Linked DNA regions of Homo sapiens: region 2 is linked to region 1. The links come from fine-mapping of genetic effects on gene expression. Tissue or cell type: blood mononuclear cells. Region 1 holds a variant in brackets; the other region holds the start of a gene. All regions are shown on one strand. Distances are between the middles of the regions.

What was found. PIP is the estimated chance that this variant, and not a neighbour inherited with it, causes the effect.
Region 2: it holds the start of AAK1, and the variant in region 1 is fine-mapped to the expression of AAK1 in blood mononuclear cells (TOPMed, PIP above 0.99).

Annotation. Positions count from the first base shown.
Region 1 is chr2:69,730,696-69,738,460 of GRCh38, forward strand. It overlaps a transcript of ANXA4 not described here. Among named protein-coding and RNA genes, the nearest start is that of ANXA4, 7.6 kb to the right of the region's middle. The variant T/C (reference allele first, on the strand shown) is at 3,013.
Region 2 is chr2:69,640,284-69,648,048 of GRCh38, forward strand. It overlaps AAK1 (AP2 associated kinase 1), which reads right to left and starts at 3,456. Exons shown (of 22, transcript NM_014911.5): 1 at 3,292-3,456; 2 at 2,595-2,991. The coding sequence starts at 2,757. It also overlaps a transcript of ANXA4 not described here. RefSeq lists a silencer at 3,205-3,534 and enhancers at 3,615-3,884, 4,640-5,242.

The DNA of each region.
Region 1 (7,765 bases):
TGCCAGCTGCACTGTAAGAAACTGTCTAAATCTGTTTGGGTGTGTTTTCTCCTTACTGGTTGAATCTATGGAAGATTGGTAAATTGACCTAACAGCTGCAGTAATCTCTGCTGCTTAGGGATTGCTTGATAATGACCCATTAGCAAGGCCTACTGCCAATGTAGGAACGGGAGGAGGCACTACTAATGTCATATATTCGCTTTCTCCATCCAGTAGTGATGACAGGGAAGTGCTGCTGGGTAAGGCAAAATTATGTCTCCACCAACAGTTCCCCAAACCTGCCTTTTAGGTCGATGGGTTTGAAGTGCTGGCCCTGAGGAGTGCTGGCCTCAAGAAGCCAAAAGCCACGATGTCACTATTTATATTAAAATTCATGAGTTTGTTGTAGTCACCAGTAGGCCTCCCTGTGTCTACCAGGATGCAGAAGGTAACAACATAGGGCCTGGTTCCATCCCACTCAATGTTTGAGACTTATTTCCTGGAGGCTGGGTCCTAGTTTTATTCTTGGGGTCTGGAGTCTCCTGCAATGACTGGGTCTTTGTTAATTAACTTCAGCACAACTGGCTCCCTTCCCTTCTTGCATGAGGCTTCTCAGACCTCTAGTGGACTTTTCTATCCATCTGCCAGACCTACCCAGACTTGCTCGAACTTAGCAGTGGCCACAAACTTAGCTCAAGCTGAAAGCTCTACTACAAAAACCTGTATGAAAGAGCTGAGTGATGATGCTGACTCTCGCCCTGGACTATTTGCAGCTGCTTTGTTTTTGAAAATAGCCAACTTAACTGCAGTCACTTCAGCGCAATCCACATCCACCTAGAGTATTTGTGAAAACAAATGAGACCATGTTGACCCCTATGATCAGAGCTTATTTTCATAATGATGGCTTGGTTTGATGACGCTTGAATATGAGCTGCGGCTCAGCAGCAGAAGGGCACAACCTCAAAAAGCAGATGTTTTTTAAAAAGCCAATAATTGAATTAAAAAAGGCTTCCTTGTCAGCTGTCATGCATCTGAGTAAAGGGTGGGGTAGGACACTTCCTTGGAAGCAATGATCTGCAAATGCATTATTTGACTGTCAAACTATGCTGAACTTTATACTGATATGATGCAAATGATGAACCTCCCTGTGGTCAAATAAGGTTTCTCTTTTTGTTGAGCTGCAGCAGTTCATGGCAAGGAAAACAGGTTTTGGGGAAGGAAAGAAAGGGTGTCGCTCCTTTGGGGCAGGAAAAAACAGAAATACCAAATGCTGATGCTATTTCTTAGTTACATTTTCTTTTCTTTCTTTTTTTTTTTTTTTTTTGAGATGGAGTCTGGCTCTGTCGCCCAGGCTGGAGTGCAGTGGCACGATCTCGACTCACTGCAAACTCCTCCTGGGTTCATGCCATTCTCCTGCCTCAGCCTCCTGAGTAGCTGGGACTACAGGCGCCCGCCACCACGCCCGGCTAATTTTTTGTATTTTTAGTAAAGATGGGGTTTCACCGTGTTAGCCAGGATGGTCTCAATCTCCTGACCTCGTGATCCGGCCGCCTCGGCCTCCCAAAGTGCTGGGATTACAGGCGTGAGCCACCGCGCCCAGCCCTTAGTTATGTGTTCTGTAGAATATTAGATTTTACCCTTGATGGGAGTGGGGTTGTGGGTGTCGCTCGCTGTGTCTGTAGATCAGGTAAACGAGAAGTTCTGAGAATATCTAATATCTGATATCTAGAAGTGATATAAACTGGGCAATACCTCTTCCCAAACAGCAGTAGAGTTCATCGAGTAAAGAGTATTACAGTGTTGGCTGGGCGTGGTGGCTCACGCCTGTAATCCCAGCACTTTGGGAGGCCAAGGCAGGCGGATCACCTGAGGTCGGGAGTTCGAGGCCAGCCTGACCAACATGGAGAAGCCCCGTCTCTACTAAAAATAAAAAATTAGTTGGGCGTGGTGGTGCATGCCTGTAATCCCAGCTACTCTGGAGGCTGAGGTAGGAGAATCACATGAACCCAGGAGGCGGAGGTTGCAGTGAGCTGAGATCGCACCATTGCACTCCAGCCTGGGCAATAAGAGCAAAACTCTGTCTCAAAAAAAGAAAAAAAAAAGATTACTACAGTGCCAAAAGCGGACCTTAGTCAAGAAGCGGTGCTGATCGAAGTCATGTTGCTTATCAGTTACCTTGCTATGCCATACATTATTTAGAGGCCCAGGTTGGATGTGGAGCAAGCTGTGGGTGCCACCTTTTCCTTGGAGACCATGATCTGTGACTTTCTTAAGGTCACCAGTTAGGAAATGGTAAAGTTGAGATTCAAACTCCTATTTTTATTTTGGAATTTAGTGAGGTTTTCTTTGCAAATAAATATGTTGTCAGTTTTTGTAAATGTTTAGTAGACAACTGAAAAAAATAGCCTTTAATAGTAAAATGAAGCATTATTAAAAACGCTTGTTCTTGTAGATAGAGTAAATTTTCATCTTTAGGGATATTGAGGCAAAATGTTTATTTACTTAATGAAAATTAACATCTGAATTAGTCTTAAGATTTACTGGAAAATAAAACATGAAGAATTATTGGTGTTAAGCTATTAATCTGCTATAACAGCTGTCATCTTAGATCTAACACCAGAAAACTGTTGGTAAAAATCTGCAATTTGGCTGGGCCTGGTGGCTCACACCTGTAATCCCAACACTTTGGGAGACTGAGGCTGGAGGATCACCTGAGCCCAGGAGTTTGAGACCAATCTGGGCAATATAGTGAGACCCCATCTACAAAAAATAGAAAAAATTAGGTGGGCATGGTGGGCATGCCTGTGGTCCCAGCTGAGGAGCCCAGCTCAGGAGGCTGAGCCAGGAGGATCACTTAAGCACAGGAAGTTGAGACTTCAGTGAGCAGTGATTGCACCACTGCACTCCAGCCTGGGTGACAGAGTGAAACCCTGTCTTAGAAAAAAAAAAAAAAGAAAAGACAGGAAAAGAAAATAAGGTGTTTTCTGTGAACTCTAGTCCAGTTCATAAATATTAATTCTGCCTTATGAATAA[T/C]AATATTCAGATTTGTCCATTTTTGGCCTGTTTTAATCTATGAAAGACAAAGCAGAAGCTGTTTAAAATTTACTTTTGCTTCATACTGTAAAACTTAAAAAATACTTTCTTCTTTGACCTCTTAGGTGTTATGTTTTTTATGTTCCCGAATTTTTTTTACAGTTCTATATAATTTTTTATGCTTACTCATCCTTGAAGGTTGAAAACTCTATCCATGCTTTGCATTTGTTCCAATATGGGATGAGCTATTTTTTTTTTTTAATCTGGCCTTACTGAATCAATGAGCTAATTCTTTTTGGCTCCCTGCCTGTCTATTTTGATGCTCTTAGAATCTTCCTCTCATTATCCTAGGCTGCAGGGTTGGGTACCTTCCAGCAGCTTGAAAGGATGGTGGAGGAAGCCATCTGGCAAGGAAAGTCACCCTGGCAAAGTTTCTTCTCAAGGCTTTGCTAACCCACTGTCCCAAGGAGCCAAAGGTTATCTGGCCTCTAGTCTCTCCTCCTCACTGGCCAGCAGCCAGACTGGACGTGGCCTGGCCATCCTCCTGAGACTACCATTGCCAATATTGTAACAGTGAGAGAAATCGAACATAGCTGACTCCATCTTGCTTCTGACCTCACAAGCTAACTGCCTTCGTGCATTCCTGCATGTAGACTAAGCTAATCATGGAAAGAATTTAGATTATAGTTTAACTGTAGAACTAATGATTACCTCTGTTTTGAAATAGACCCCTGAGGAGATAAGGAAGTATGCACACAACATTTAAACAATGCTGTCTTGACGATTTATAGCAATAACGTGGACCTGACAAGCATTTGACCATGAACAAAGAAGTTTTGCAACCTCCTTGGAGCCCTGCTGATGCCCAGATGTCTGTGGTCACCAGTCACCTCTAGACCTTAACCCCTCTCTGTTCTCCCTTCCCCTAACATAAAAGGAGCCAAAAAAATCCATGAACTTAAGATGATTCTTTAGGACACTAGGCCACCATTTTCTCAGTTTGCTTGTTCCCCCCAAAAAAGTCATCTTCCAGCCGGGTGCAGTGGCTTAAACCTGTAATCCCAGCACTTTGTTTCTCCGGTTTTTGAGATAGGAGGGGCCCTCTAGTAGTGTCAACTTGAGTATAGTGTACCCACAGTTTTATTCCAGCAAACTTCACTGATGAGTGGGTATTCAGCAACATCTCAAACAATCCCATTCACTTGTTCCTTCTAGGTGTCATTCCACAGTCACCCCTTGTCAACCCTGCCCAGTTCCACTGAAAGTAGCCAAATGAGAGACAACATCCTGTTGTCCCCAACTCCACAAGATTATGGAATGAACCTTTGATACTGGGGAATTGTAACAGTGAAAGAAATCTAACATAGCTGACTCCATCTTGCTTCTAACCTCACAAGCTAACTGCTTTTGCTCATTCCTGCCTGTAGGCCAAGCTAATCATGGAAAGAATTTATTTTATATTTTAACTGTAGAACTAATGACTATCTGTCTTTTGAAACAGACCTCTGAGGAGGTAAGGAAGTATATACACAAGTAACAATGCTATCTTAAAGATTTATAGGAAAAGGGTGGATCTGACAAGCAGTTAACTATGAACAAAGAAGATGTGCAACCTCCTTGGACCCCTGCTGATGCCCAGATGTCTGTGGTCACCAGTCACCTCTGGACTTTAACTCCTTCCCTGTTCCCCTTTCCCCCAACATAAAAGGAGCCTAAAAATCTATCGACTTAGGGTGCTTTAGAACACTAGTCCACCATCGTCTTGGTTTACTGGCTCCCTGAAACAAAGTCATCTTCCTTGCCCCAACACCTTGTCTCTCAACTTGTTGGCTGCTGTGCAGTAAGCAGTATGAGCTTTGGACTCAACTGCAGTATCAGAGGGGAGACTTGCCACTCTGGGAAAAAAAAAATCCCCTATTTGCATGTCTTGGGCCATTTCAGTGAGTATTTAGAGAGGAGATTCAGAAGTCTAGGCTAAAACCCAATTTTACCTGGCAGTGTTCTGCTTGTCTATCGCTCCAAAAAATAACACTCAAAATTCAGGGGTGTGAAACAATCACAATCATTTATTATTATCTCTCATGATTCTGGTGATTGACTGGGCTCAGCTAGTTAGTTCCCACTCAGAATGTGTCAACTGGCTACCATGAGACAGCGATCATACTGGAGTGGCCTTGAAGGCTTCCTAGTCACATGTCTGGCACTGAGACAGGGAAAACTCAAACTGCTGGGGCATGAAACAGCCAAAGCTCCTTGACTCTTTATTTTCATGGGTTCTATTTACATGATCTCTGCAACATGGTGGTTTCAGGGCTGCTGTACTTATATACTCCAAAGGCACATGTTCTGAGCAAGAGAGCTAACCGATGCCTAGAGCTAGATGACCAGGTCTCCTTTTAAGACCCAGTTTTGAAAGTCACATAGCATTACTTTGGTTGTGCAGTCACAGAAACCCATCTAAGAAGCCTACCTGGGTTCAAGGGGAAAGGACTTAGATGCCACCTCTTGATTGAGGTGGGGGGCAGGGTTTTTGGAAGAGCACATGGGACTGAACATATTGTTGCTGCAATTCTGAAAAATACAATCTGCAGCAGGAAGTTTAATGCAACTTGTAGAATTAATAAATGATTGTATACCATTAATAGTAACACTTCTTGACACCTACTCTATGAGAGTATCTAACTCATCGAACCGTGTGAGGATTAAATCATTAATATCATATATTTAAAGCACCTAGAATACTGACTGGCACATAGTAAGTGCACACAGTAAGTAAATGTTAGCTGTACTCTATAGTTAAGAAAAATTAGAAGTCTGTAACTATAGTATTAACTAATTACCCTTCCCCATCATTCAATTCTCAGTTGTTCATTCTGCTATTCCCTTTTTTTAGAAAAAAGTTTCTTGGTTTATGTCCTTGTTTAGGTGGAAAAGCTTTCACCATCTGAAAACTTCTTAAGAAAAGGTACATGGGAGATAAACATTTTGAAATTGTACGTGTCTGGAATATATTTACCCCCACATTTGACTGCTAATTTGTATGTGTATGAGAATCTATGTTAGAAATAATTTTCTCTCAGCATTTTATTTACTTATTTATTTAATTTATTTAGATACAGAGTCTCGCTCTATCACTCAGGTTGGAGTGCAGTGGTGCCATCTTGGCTCACTGAAACCTCCAGTTCCCAGGTTCAAGTGATTCTCATGCTTCAGCCTCCTGAGTATCTGGGATTACAGGTGACCACCACCACGCTTGGCTAATTTTTGTATTTTTTAGTAGAGATGGGATTTCAACAAGTTGGCCAGGCTGGTCTTGAACTCCTGTCCTCAAGTGATCCACTCACCTTGGCCTCTCAGAGTGCTGGGATTACAGGTGTGAGCCACTGCACCCAGCCTACTCTCAGCATTTTAAAGACATTATTCCATTGTCTTTCAGTTTCATGTGTTGCTACTGAGAAATCAGATGCCATTCCGATTCTGGATCCTTTATGTGAAACCTTATTTCCTCCTGGGTACTTGTAAGATCTTCCCTATGTCCTCAGTCTTCTAAAGTTTTATCACAATGTTGCCTTGGTGTGGTTCTGGTTTTGTCCATTGCACTATGCTCAGTGAGCACTTTCAATGTGGAAATTCATGCTCTTTAGTTCTCAAAATATATAATTGAATTATTTAATTCATTTCTTCCCCTGTTTCCCAGATGTCCAAGGCTGGCTTTCTAATCTTCTTATCCTTTCTTATTTCTTTCCCTTCTCTTTGCCTTCTGTCTATGCATTCTAGGATATTTTCTAACTTTATCTTCTTAACATTCTACTCAGTTTTTTATTTTTGCTATCAGATTTTTAATTTAAAAGAGCTGTGTTTGGTTCTATGAGTGTTCCTTTTTTAGGGTATTTATTTATTTACTTATTGAGATAGTGTCTCGCTATGTCACCCAGGCTAGAGTGCAGTGGCTGTTCACAGGTGTGGTCATAGCCTCAAACTCCTGGGCTCAAGTTGTCCTCCTGCCTCAGCCTACCAAGCAGCAGGGACTACAGGCTCATGTCATCGCACCCAGCTTTTCTGTTTTATTTGATCTTTCTCAGAGAAGATCAATAATAGATTTCTCAGTTTTCTTCTCCCCCTATACTCTTTTTCTTCCTTTTCTCTTTTTTCCTGTTAGCATGTTTTGGGTTCTGTTTTTAATGTCAGATCCTTCCCCTACATTGTGATGACCTTCAGCTGCCTGCTCTTACTTAAGTGTGCCAGATTTAGCAACAAAAAGAAAGAAAAAAAAGACAGGACATCTGGTTAAATTTGAATTTTAGATAAACAATGAATAATTTTTAGTATAAGTATGTCTCATGCAATATTTGGACATACTTATAGTACATAAGTATTTTATATTTTAGTAAAACATTAATTGGTGTTTAACTGAAAATCAAATCTAACTAAGTGTCCTGTATTTTATCTCGCAACCCTAAGAGTGAGGTCTACAAAGCTGCCTGGAAGCCCTGAGTGCGTGTGTAAGTGGGTGGGGCTTGACAAGGGTGAGTTTACCAACAGGTTGCTCCAGTTTCATTGCATAAATGATTACATCTCTTCAGGTCTTTCCTCTTAGATTCCCCAAAGAAAAGTATTCCAAACTCTCCAGCCTGGTGAGTTTGAACTTGGCTGCCAGAGTTCTAGGAGCCAAGCGGGAAGAATACCAAGCAGCTCAGTAGGCATCATCTTAAGTTTCATATGGCTCTTCAATTTCAGTACAGTAGCCCTAGTC
Region 2 (7,765 bases), 90 kb before region 1:
GGCCTGAGAATCTCCATTTCCAACAAGCTCGCAGGTGATAAGTATGCCCCACTTTGAGAACCACTGCCACAGGGAAACAGAGATTCAAGAGTGGTTTGGAATGTCTTGCCTACAGTTCCACAGCTAGTAAAGAACAGATCCAGAATTTGAACCTAGATCTGTCTGACTCTACAGACAGTGCTGGTAACCATGCTACTGTATGTGTGAATGTATGCCTCATCTTCCCAAATTCATTGGCAGATCCTTAAAGGCAGATGTCAATCACACTATAGACCTCCCTCATCCATCTCAGAACTTCATAGGGTCTTTGGACTTGGTAGGTGCTACATAAATACTTTGTATACTGGCTCCTACATATCTACATACTTCTAAGAGCCACAAATTCAAACTCAACTTAAGCCAAAGAACACAAAAAGGGCGCATAGCCAGACCCAGTTTTACGTGACATTCTCTCTCGCTACTCTGTCTTTGCCCATGGTGCCACCACACTAACTCCTACTCACTCTTCAGTCACTTCCTTCAGAAATCCTGGGCTCCCTAAAACTGGGGGCCACTGCACCCTAAGTTTATCTCTATGATGGCATTTACCAATCCACTATAACTGGCTATTTTCCATCTCTTAAAGCAGTTGGTAAAAGCTAGCATCTAGTTTAACAGTATACCCCCAGAGCCTAGCACAGCACCTGGCACTTCACAGGCAACTCCATAAACTGTTGAATGAATAAATGCAGAGCTACAAGTCCTAAATTCTGTGTAAAAATATCACAATACGTGATGCGCAGTTCTCAAAGATGAATCCCAGAGAAGAGGAAGGCAGCCTAGGTAACAAAGACCAATTTTGCCTTTTCTTTTCCCTATCACTTCTCTCACACTTGGAGAACATGCACCGCTTAGGGCAGCATCATCCGTGATGAGACAACATCCTAGCTGAACAAAACGCTCGTGGGCTATAAGGTCAGCAGAGGCCATTCAGAGGGGAGGAAAGTGTTCTGTGGCCCTTCGTTTCTCCTGATTTCTCTCTGACACACTCTCCTTTTCACTGTTTCTCCACCCCACTGCAGTTAAGGGCTTTGGCACAGGGATGAAAGAGACAGATCAGACTCAAGGGTGCGGATCTGGCAGCGGGCACAGAAGCATCTCCTAGCCTGCACCAAAGTCCACGGGAAAGATCCAAGGGGACAGTGACTCTGGCCCCAGATAAAGCGCAGCTAGAACAGTACTGAGATTGGAAGAGCAATAATTTCACATGGACATTAACTGTCAGAGATCTTTTTTAAAAATCATGTTTTTAAAGTACAGACTTCAACTCTATTCCCAGAAAACTGGGCCCTGCTGAATCCAGTGCTTACACAAGCTGAGAGCCAAACACAGCTTCTTCCTCTTCCAAACCCACCCACCAGCCCGCAACATCCACCATGGTAAGCATTTCCCAGGCCCAGGTCAGGACCCTTGCTTCAACTTTAGCTTGCAAAAGGCCCCTTTTTAAAGAGGCCTCTTAGCTTTCTCTCTTCCCTTGCTAATAAAACTGTTCCCTACCATCACCATGTTGCAGTAAGAGAGACCTCTCCCTTCTTCCAACCCCTCTCGGTCTATAACACAACCTACAGCAGGTTGGCCCCATCCAATCAGTCTGAATTGCTTCATGCCAAGGAAATTGCTGCTTTTATTAAAAATAAAAGCACACTAGGCAGGCGAAGGGCTGTGAAAAGTATGAGTCTGGCATAATTATGAAGGTCGAGGTTAAGGTTACCAAAAGAGACATGCAAAGATTTCCCGAAAGCCTGGGGGAATCAAGATGTATATCTACGTGAGTATAGACACACAGATGAAACACAGAGGGAATTTATGCAGCAGATCTAAATAACATCCTCTCTGATAGCGAAAAAACAAAATCAGAGCCACTCTCAAGTAATTTTTCTTTTGATTAAAAAAACAAAAAACAAAACCTAAAGCGAGAAGGAAGAGGGGCCTACTAGACTGAGTTCAAAATAACCACATTTGTTTTATGTAATTTCTGTTATCTTTGCTATAACCTGGGGACCTGATTACAGTTGGGTCAGGAAACAAATCTACTAGTGAAATCCACCAAGAGCCTTGGCCCTTGGAAAAACACGTTCACGTTCTCCGAAAATCCTCTCTTCCTTCCAATGCCTGCTCATGGAAGTGGGAAAGTTGGGTAGGAGAAGGAGAAACCCCTCTCTTCTTAAAAGTCCCCCCACCCTTCAGCCTTCACATCAAGATTTTAAGTTTTAGGAGGATGACAAGCCCATCACCCTGCCTTTGGCATAAAGCTTTACACTTTCACACATACGTTTTCTTGTGTGATCCTCAAAATTTGGCTTCTCAATATTAAAAAAATAAAAATAAAAGGCCACTAACGTAAACAATTTCGGCAACCTCCCCACACCCCCATAAGCCCAGTCACTTTCAAATCTCAATTTTAAATCTCTCAAGGACAATGACTCACAGGGCAAGTGAAGGGGGAAGGGAGGGTCAACTGGTCAAAGCCCATTCATACATGCAACAACTAGAAACCACAGTATTGCCGCATCAGCACAAGATTTTAATTTACGGCGCATTGAGCCCCACCGTACCTTCCGCCAACACCTCGTCCACTGTGACCTGCTGTCGCCCGATGCCGAAGACTCTTCCGATGTAGCCACTGCCCAGGCCCGAGGTGCTGCCCCCTCCTCCGCTGGAGCCGGAGCCCAGGCCAGAGCCGCCCTGCTCTCGCCGGGAGTCGAAAAACTTCTTCATCTTGCGAATAGGGAGCAGCAAAGCAAAATACCGATGGTTTCTAGATTTTTTTTTTTTTTTTTTTTTTTTAAGAAAAGAGATCCAAGGATTTCTTCTCAGATTTCACCTCGGAGAGGAGCCACCCGAATCCGGCCGTGGGGGTGGGGGCTGAGGGAGGATGCCTATAGGAATATGCGTGTCAATCGCGCAGCGGGTCCCCTCCTCCTCCAGAAAGCGATTCGTGTAAGTTTAAACCTGTGATGACAGAGGAAGAAAGAGAGGATGAATCAGTAACACGCTTAAAAATTCAACCGCTGAGTCCTAGGGGGAGCAAAAGCCATCATCCTGGGGAAACGCTTCATGTATTTTCCCGGCGAGAAAAACCGTGGGGCTGAAAACGCGACCCCGGCCCCAGAACCCGGGACCCCCGAGCCGGGAGCTCGGAGAAAGGAGGGATCCGAGCTGCTCCGGCAGCGCCGACCCTCCCGGGCACTGCCTCCCGCTCCTCCCGGGTCTCCCCGCCGCCCCTCGAGGCGGCATCCTGGCAGCACCCACTTGAGACGGCTCGGCGGCCGGCGCCCTGCTACCAGCCCCGCGACATTGTCACGGCCGCCGGGCCGGCCTGCGACGCAGAGAAGAGGCGGCGCTGCAGCGAGAGCCGGGGCCGCGCTCGGCTCCCGCCCGCCCGCCAGCTGATCCCGGGAGCGCCGGGCGGAGACTGACCCGCCGCCCCTCCCCCGCGCGCGCTCCCGCCCGGCTCCATCCACCCAACCAGGAAGTGAACCGCCGCCGGAAGTGCCCCTCGGGGCGGCGCGGCGAGGGACCGGGGCCTCTCCTGCAACCGCCGTTCTGTCGCCACGGATGGGAAGGAGTCGACCGCGAGAAGAGGACTGGGGGAAGAGGGTCTCAGTGCAGACAGAGTTCTGGAAAAGACTGTTGATATCACCCGAGCCGCAGGGCAAGCTGGGAAAGGTAGCTCGGCACAGTCCGGCTGCTGGACTACAAATCCCAGCATACTCCTGGAGGAGAGGGCGAGGCGGCAGCCGTGTGGCCTCCACGGCCTCGAAGGAGATTTGTGGGGTGGCGCGTATGTGGGGACTCGGCAATTTAAACACATCCCGTGAAGAAACTGCCAACAACTAAGTTCCCCCCCCCCCCCCCCCGCTGTATGTTCCACCCTTCTGGAGCCATCTTATTTGCGGCCTGGCCTCCTGGCACAAGGGATTCTGGAGGTTGTGGTTTCCGAACGGATCGAGACTGACACCTGAAGGACGCGGCTTAACCGCTTAGCCCCTAGCGGGTCCTGTGGGTTTCCCGACGTCTCCTGGGCTGAAATGGAAGCGAGAAGTGATCGGGAACATTGTGCTGGCAGTTGGATCCGGCTGCACCGAGCGCCAGCCTTGAAATAAGTAAAACCGATGCCCTTCCGCCCCTAACCTCAAAAGCTGCTTTTGCGTCTCGATGTTATTGAGAGCCGGCTCTGCGGTCAGCTCTGAGCTAGGCGCTGTGAGAACGCTCAGTAAGACAGTGTCTCGTCTGGAAATGTACAGGCGAGATTCAAACCGAGAAACTGCCAAAGGTTGTGTGCAGGGCAGATCCTAGGATACCGGAGACCCAGCCCGTTGGCTTGACCTCAAAACTCGGGGGCTTTTCGGCCCATGCTGTCCCTTAATTCCTCCTCCTTTGCTGACGCTGTGGGTGCGCATCAAAGCCTAAACTTCACTAGCTCCCTTGCACACAAGAACACTAACCCTAACCTGACCAGTTATTTATTTTTCACTTCAAGATTCTTCCATTGATACTTACGTTTCCCTGATACCGTCCAAGTGCTGAGGGCGGGGATGGACTGTGTGATTTGCATCTGCCAAATGCAGAAAATTTGGAAGGTCAGTTGGTACACTTTTCCGACCTAGATTTCCTGATGGATGATGCTGAAGAGTGGCAAGTTGCTGCCAAAAACAAACAAAAAAACCTACCATGATTTATTAATATTATTTTTCTAACCCCTGAATATGGGTTATTGTTCATCTCTGCCCGCTTTCCCCACTCCCTAGTGCTTGTCTCAGAATTTTTTTTTCAGCGGGTATTTGAGTAGAGAAGGGTGTCCCAGGGAAAAAAATGGTTCTTGCTTTCTCTAATCTGAATATTGAGCTGAGCTGTGACTGGGTTAACAGTAGCGTTTGTTGTTGCTGCTGCTGCAGCTTGTTTCAAGTAGTGCCATTGTAATTAAACTCCGTGAAGAGATAGCATCTTTTCTTCCGGAGAGAGTCAGTGTTGTCACCTCAGTTCACGAATTCATGTAGCCACCTCCAGGGTGAAATGCAGCCCCTATTCCCTCAAACTAAGCCCACGAAGGCATGTTCTCTGCACTTTCCTTAAAAGGCCAGATTTTTGTCTGAGGAAGTTTGAAGCAGATCTTAAAATAGATGAGAAAGCTCATTTGGAATTAGACTCATTGACCCCCATTTCTCTCAGCACTTATTTGTCTTGACTGACTTTTTTAAACAAGCTGTGCTAGGTCCTAAAATCAATCTGATGCTATCTCAGTTTTTACCTTTCTAGACTTCTCTGGTACCAGACTAGTCCAGGCTTACACAAATCTCAAGTCTTACTTCAGTGATACAAAAACTCCCAATATGCTTAAGGTAGCTAACATGCATTTATTTAACACCCACGTGAATGCTCTGATCAGAAGCTGAGGGAAGAGGTTTAAAAAACAAAAAACATGACTAGATTCCTTGCCCTCCATTCCCTCACAGACTAATAGCAATTATAATGACAAATCCACAGTTTTTCATGCTTTACATATATTAAGTATATAATGCTCACAACCACCCTATGAAGTAAAGTACCATTATTATACTCATTTTATAGGTGGGTAAGTAAAGCAAAGAGATTAGTGACTTGCCCAAAGTCACACAGTAAATAGCAAAGCCAGGATTCAAACCCAAACATTTTAGTTTCAAAGCCCAGTTCTTACCTGGCTATACTAAACTGTCTACTTAGAGAGAGCAAACATTAACTGATTAAAAGACTCGTGAATAGTTAGAAACCCACGCACAAGCAGCATAGGACCAGGAGACAGGAAACCTCTTGCCACTTCATAGCTGGGATCCTAGACCACTTGTGTCACTGGGCTTATTATCTCAGCTATAAAACCAGAGCTCTTACAACTCTTAGTAATTTTTTAGTTCCTGAGTACAAAATAATGAACAGATCAGCCACTATAATCTCAAAACTATCACACTTTCTGTATAATTTGTCCCATGCTGCTTTGCATTCCTGTTCAACTTTTAATGTATATTGCTGTCTCAACCAAACACCTCAAAGCCAGAGAACCATCTTCTACTTATCTCCTTGGGCATCCAGTATAATAGTTTACATAGAGTGTGTTCTTAGCAGTACTTAAAGTAAATAATTTACTTTAAATGTGACACAAAACAGAGCTATCTGATTAAGGTGGAAAGATTGATTTGAAGTATCCTAGATGAATTTTGAACTAGGTGTGGAAGATGCTATGGGTAAATAGTCAAAGGGAGTGGGAAAAGAAAGTGCCATTTACTATTGTTACAATAGTGATCATATGACCGATGGAACAGACTCTTTGAGGCAATAAGATGCCAAATTATAAACAAGACCTAAGGCTGTGTCAGGCAAGGGTTAAGTCACACATCCCTACACTTGAAGAGTAAACCATCTTCTAACTGCCACAAGGTTTTTCTTTTTCTCTGGTAGCTAAATAGACACTGGCCTGGAGATAAGCAATATTGAATCAATTGTAGCTCACTGACCACTAGATGCTGACTAACTGTATCCCCCCAACCCCTGTTCCACAAACCATAACTATTTCTTTGATTGGACAAGAGACTGATTTCAGTAACATCCTAGTAAGAGACTACCAACCACAGACTGGTTCTGGCTGGTTTTCAGAGGCTGTGCACTGAGTGTCTTCATGTCCTTTGCTTCACCTAATTGTAATGCATTTAAATGTTAAATCTCCACCCCAAAGAGAACATAGGACATATGTAACATGCATGTTTGCTCACTATGCATGCATGTGCTGCCCCCCGCTTTGTGAATAATCAAAGCTCCTGTAACTTAAGTGTGTATTCTTAGCCAACTCATTTGGCATAAATTTGTGTTCCACTTTTTCCTCCCTCTAAATACCTGCTTTCAGTCTCTGCCAGAGTCTACACTTCCCAGCCTGTCAGGATCACCAGCCTGCAGGCTGCAACCCTTTATAAAAAGTAAAGCTCCCCTCTCCAAATTTATAAACCTTGGGATTCTTCAGTTAACACTATGTATCTTCCATATGCCAGTTATGGAATTTAAAAAATATATATATATTGTTTTATTGTTTTATTTTTATTTTATTTATTTATTTATTTATTTATTTATTTATTTTTTGAGACAGAGTCTCACTCTGTAGCTCAAGTTGTAGTGCAGTGGCGTGATCTCGTCTCACTGCAACCTCTGCCTCCCAGGCTCCAGCGATTCTTGTGCCTCAGCCTCCCGAGTAGCGGGGACTACAGGTGTGTGCCACCATGCCTGGCTAATTTTTTGTATTTTAGTAGAGACAGGGTTTCACCATGTTGCCCAGGGTGGTCTTGAACTCCTGAGCTCAGGCCATCCACCCACCTTGGCCTCCCAAAATGCTGGGATTACAGGCATGAGCCACCACGCCCAGCCACTTTTTAAAAAAAATAATTATATAAAAAATAGAGATGGGGTCTTGCTTTGTTGCCCAGGCTGACCTCAAACTCCTGGACTCAGGTGATCCTCCCACCTCAGCCTCCCAAAGTGCTGAGATTACAGATGTGAGCCACCGTGCCTGACTGATATTATTTTATTTAATCTTCATGGTTGCCTACAAAGTAGACAGTATTATCTATTTTATCAAAGAAAATACTGTTACACTATTATTCCCAATTTTATAGATGAACAATGAAGATTTTGTTAGTAGCAGATGAACATGTATGGTTTGTTAAGTTTGAAGGAAATGATTTGACCTGTGGTACACCTAAATCAT